2 separate regions of the Homo sapiens genome follow, and region 2 is linked to region 1. The links come from fine-mapping of genetic effects on gene expression. Tissue or cell type: whole blood. Region 1 holds a variant in brackets; the other region holds the start of a gene. All regions are shown on one strand. Distances are between the middles of the regions.

The links. PIP is the estimated chance that this variant, and not a neighbour inherited with it, causes the effect.
Region 2: STEAP3 starts here. The variant in region 1 is fine-mapped to the expression of STEAP3 in whole blood (TOPMed, PIP above 0.99). The same link has a PIP of 0.9 or more in blood mononuclear cells.

The regions. Positions count from the first base shown.
Region 1 is chr2:119,313,975-119,316,658 of GRCh38, forward strand. The region is part of intron 4 of C2orf76 (chromosome 2 open reading frame 76); the gene reads right to left. Among named protein-coding and RNA genes, the nearest start is that of C2orf76, 52 kb to the right of the region's middle. The variant C/T (reference allele first, on the strand shown) is at 1,246.
Region 2 is chr2:119,222,226-119,224,909 of GRCh38, forward strand. STEAP3 (STEAP3 metalloreductase) reads left to right here and starts at 1,609. Exons shown (of 6, transcript NM_182915.3): 1 at 1,609-1,663. RefSeq lists silencers at 1,352-2,131, 2,192-2,261.

The DNA.
Region 1 (2,684 bases):
TTTCCCCCACTTTTCATTTGTTCCTTGCTTTTCTCAGTGGTTTTTTTTTTTTTTTTTTTTTTTACATAGAAGGTGTTAAATGAATTTTCGTGGAATAAATAAGTTAGTGAATGAAGTAAAATGTATCAATCTCATATCGTTTCTCAGTTTTCTGTCATATTTAGAAAGCCCTTCTTCACGCCAAGATTTTTTAAATTCCCTGTTCTCTTCAAATATTTTTAAGAATTTCATTTTTTGAATTTTTCATCGTGGAGAATTTCAAATATACAATAGATACAGAATAGTGTAATAAACCCCCTGCCCTGTACCCAGGACCCAACTTGAACAAATTATCAAGTCATGTTCCATCTGTTTCATCTCTATCCTCATCTATGGGTTTAATTTTTTAATCCAAGGGGTATTTATTTTGGCATAAAGAAAAATACATGGATTCAACTTAGCTGTTTTTTAGATGTTTATGCAGTTATTCAAATACTATTTATTGAGTCCTCCATCTTTTCTTTACAAACTTGAAATGCCATATTTACTATACATTCAATTTCCATATTTGGAAATATTGGGGTCTATTTTGGAACTTTTAATTCTGTGCCCTTAAACTACCAGTTCATGTGACAGTGCCATACTGTTCTAATTACTATCGTTTTATAACATGTCTTATATGTTAGAGCTAATTACTCTCATTTCTCTTTTTCAAAATTCTCCTGATTATTCTTATTTTTTACATACTGATTTTAAAATCAGCTTATTTAGTTTACATATAAACACAAGTATTGTATTTTATTGGGGCAGCATTAAATATGTAAATTAAGAGAGAACTGATTTTACGCTGTTGTATCTTCCTATCCAAAATATCCTAAGCATTTCTATTTAAGTCTTATTTTGGAACTCTCATAGCAGGTTTTGTTTTGTTGTTAAGTTGAAGTACAGTTTCACACAATGAAACGCACAGATCTTGAGAGGAGTTCACTTTAATGGGTCTGAAAAATTAATCGCAGAGTTTAGATGCGTATTTTCAAGTGTGTGTGTGGTGAGGGGTGAGGAAGGACAGCAGCATTTTAAGTTTTCTTTTTAAAGACCTTGCACATTTCTTATAAAGTTTGTTCCAGGATATGACTTCCACACATAAAATGGAAATTAAAGTTTTTATTTCAATCTTAATAGAAATTATTCCGACTTTATAAACACACCACTGATTACCATCCATAATACACACACACATACACACACACACACACAGAGGAGGCT[C/T]GGGTGGGAAGGTATCCAGTCAGTCTTTTTATTGTGGGAATGGGAAGAAATTTCTGAGGATATGTAGTAACTGCAATTAGGAAAGTCTCTAAGCCCAGAAAATTAGGGAAATGGGGAAAATGCCTTTTATGAATGAGTTCATTAAGACAAAGGAATTATTTAGAAGTCTCTCCTTTCAGCTGACGAAGGAGATTAAAATTACAGCTGAGTTGGAACACTAACAGGCCAAGCCAGCAATGCCACAGGCCCCGCAGATGGGGAATAGAAAATGAAAGGACAACAATAACTTGGAAATGAGAAAAATGACTGTGAACTGGATAAGGCACAAATGAGGACATGTGGATGAAGTTTCTCTGAAGTTTTAAAACCGTATCTGTGAAAATATATTGAACTCTTCCCTTAGAAAAGTTGAAGCAGAAACTTGCAGAACCATCCCCAGGGCATCTTAACTAGCATTGTTATGATTTGGATCAAAGTTCATAAAGCCAGATTCCAGAAGCACTCTGAGTGACTTAATTGTTTTGGGAGTCCTCCCTTAAACAAATACATTGTTCAACTGGAAAAACAAGCCCTAATTTTATAACTAGAACCTGCCAGTGTGAAACATATGTCTTAAATATAAGTAACAATTCTAAGATTGTTTTGTCTTCCGATGACAGGATAATTTCCAGATTTTTTAAATGTTATAATACTGATAATTTGAACATGATGAACTATGTCTCCACTAAGATAAAGGAATAATTTACTACTTACTCCTTTTTGGCAACATGAGCATATGAAAAGCCAAATGATGTAGAACATGCAGCAATGAATGGAGAATGGGGACTTGCTTTGCTTTACAACCTTTTTGAAGAGCGTATTGTTTTATTTTAACTTTATTTTATATTTGTATTTGTATTTTAGATGTATATAATACACAAAAATATAGAACATTACCTATTCTCTACATTTTAGGAATGAGGTTGAAAACATTCCTGTCCCAGAGGAGAGAAATTGGACGAAGTCCAAATATGGTGGCCACACATTCTAGTACCAATCAAAAGGGCAGATTCCATACCACAGCCCCAGACACGTGTGAGCATGACATTTTGAGGCATTTCACAATGGATATTGTAAAACTGGCATATACAATCCTTGGTATAAAAAATAAAGTTACTAGAAGGAACCAAGCCTACTAAACCCTTGACTTTTGCTCAGTGAAACTGATTTTGGACTTCTGACCTCCAGAATTGTAGGAGAATAAATGTGTGTTGTTTTAAGCCACAAAAATATTTTTTAAATAACATAAATTTTAAAACACAGTTACTAATCAATGGTCAACAGACATAGCCTCATGCCATTTTCTTGTGATCTGTGATACGCATTTATCTGAAAGGTGATTGAGTGTATGGAGTGCATCTACGACTACAGAAGACAATGAAATAAAATGAATTAATAAA
Region 2 (2,684 bases), 92 kb before region 1:
CCATCCCCATCAGCAGGAGCAGGCATCAAAAGAACAGCTACTGCAGGGGGAGCATATTAGGGGCACCAGAGGGGGCTAGGAACTGGGTCTTGTCTTCTCAAAGTTTACAACCCACTGCAGGGGCCACTCACCAGCCCTGGCACCCTAAGGGCAGGAACCTCCATTGGGCACGTGTGTCTCCAGCACTGGGAGCACTGTCTGGCACCTGGGGCACTGTGAGTGTTGAATGGATAAAGGACCTGTAAGAATTGCCATAAGAGGTGTTGCCCTGGGGCAAGGTGGGACAGGAAAGTTCTTGCAAGAGAAGAGAGGCTCTGGCCTTGGGCCCTGGCTGAGCAGAGAGCTGGGAGGTGGGTATTCGGGTAGGAGGAAAGCTGTGGAGGGGGAAAGCAAACTGCCTGCGGGGGTGGGGGGGTTCTCGGCGGGAGTTGGGGGTGGAGGGAAAGGCGCTTTACAGCAGCACTCCCTCCACAGGGAGACCAGAGCTCTGCCTCTTCCTCCCCACCGTGCCCTTTGGGGTCCAGTTGTGGGGCCTTCCTTGAGGCCCAGCTCCTGCCTCTGGCCTCCGGAGGCTTATCTCCCCAACAGAGGCTGGCTCCCCAGAAAACAGGATTCTTAGACTTCCTAAAAATAACCTGAAGCTCCTTATCAGAGGCTAATAGTGTATGTCTCCCAGGAATACTCTAGAAAGAGTACCAGGGGTCAGGAACCCCCACTCAGCCTCCACGAATCTGAGCGGAAAAGCCCGGGTCTCCTCACCTGTAAAGAAAATAACTGCAGCCGGCAAATGTGACCACAGGTGAGAAGGGGCTTCGGACCAGGGCGCACACCTCTAGAGAGGTGCCCACAGACAGCCTCCCCTTACTTACGCCCTGCTTCGCTGCAGTGCTGTGAAGCCATCGGCATTGGAAGTGCGGAGGGCAGCGGGCAGTGCCCCAGGGGGAAGGGGGGACGGGTAGGGTTTCAGAGCCCAGAAGGCCTAGACAGGGAGGCAGCTCCGGGAGAAAGGTACCCGCCATCCCACCGGTCTTGGAACCTGAGGACTGCTGGGAAGGGTCAAAAGTCTGCCCTAAGGGTGGACAAGGGACAGAGATTGGGGGGGGACCACAAAGGCCTGGGCGCAACCTTGTTGAGAGGGAAGGGATCCGGACCCAATCTGGAGCCCTGGTCTCTTCCCACCTGCAACCGTGGCTGCCACTTGGCCTCGGTTATAAAATGGACAAGGATTCGAGGTGCTCCTCAGGTTAAGAGAGGGGGGCCTAGAGGTCACCCTGGCCTCGGTGCCCTCCGTGGCCGGGTTAAGAGGAGGTCCCGGAGTTCTGCTCACTTCAGCCGTGTGCCGGGCACTGCAAATCAGGAAGTGTTGGCGCCGGCTGGCGACCTCCCGCCTGGGGCCAGGGGAGGAGGGTGGTTGGACGCTGCCACCGCTGCCGGGGCTGTGCAGGGCTGGGCGGGGAGCGAGGACCCGGCGGCTCCTGATTGCGGCCCCGGGGGAGGTGGCCGAGCCGGATAAGCTGCGGCGGGCTGGAGGGCGGCCACCTCCCCTGCAGGTCCGGCCCTCCCGGGCGGGTGGGGCGCGGGGGAGGAGGAGCCTCGGGCCGAGCCACCGCCTTCGCCGCGGACCTTCAGCTGCCGCGGTCGCTCCGAGCGGCGGGCCGCAGAGGTGAGTGTACCCTCCCCCGGTCTCCGCGGGGCTGCGTGCTGCGCCCGGTCCCCGAGACGCCCGCCCGGTTGCACCCTGCGCCGTCGCTGCGCGGACCTCGGGTGCCGCCACACGTCTGGAGGCGACTTCTGTCCCCTGGGACCGAGCCACGTGCGCCCGGCGGCAGAGAAACCGGGTTCCGGGGCCCCCACCCCGTGTGCCTTCCTTCCCTAGGCGTGGAAGCCGCTTGCGCCGCGCAGGTTAGGCAGGGCCGGCGGCGACAGTGGCGGGGAGCAGGCTCCGGAGCCCCGGGTGCAGATGTGGGCGCCCCTCCGGATGACCCCGGCTGAGTCCACAGGTCCCGTGTGCCCCACGGCTGGGGCTCTGGCCAGCGGTCCCAAAGGAGGGCTGGTAGCTGTGGGCGGGGATCTTCCAGGCTCTTCCTCGCCAGACCTCCCAGTCCCTTCGCAGCCGAACAGGGCAGGGACAGGGGCAGGTGCAGGGGCTGGGCAGGGGCGCCCGACCTTGGTCCCCAGGAGGAGGCTGGCCTCACCAGTGCCCGCCTCTGCCCGCGGAGCCCTTGCCTGGCAAAGTTCCCCCTCCTGCCCGGCAAAGCTCCCCCTCCTGCCCACTTCCCCGAAATTTGGGGACAGGCTGCCCGGAGAGGTGTGGTTGGAACTTTGGTCACTCTGGGTAAATGAAGGGGAGGGTGTGCCCAGATAATATGCGGTTTGGGGACCAGAAAGCCGGATCCGTGGGGAGAAGCAGGAAGGTCCCGCTGGAGCCCTGGCAGAGGGCACAGAGAGGCCTCCCAAATATCCAGGGCCACCTCAGAGATGGGCTCCAGAAGTGGGGATTCTGGAAATGCCCCCAGGGAGGTATTTCTGTCCATCAGAGTGCAGCCATAATATAATTAACAGCAGATATTCCCATTTATGTGTGCCAGGCATCTTGCTAAGGGCTTTGAGCACAATATCCCAGTTAATCCTCACAACAGGAAGGCACCATTATCTCTTGTTAAAAATGGGGAAACAGCCTCAGA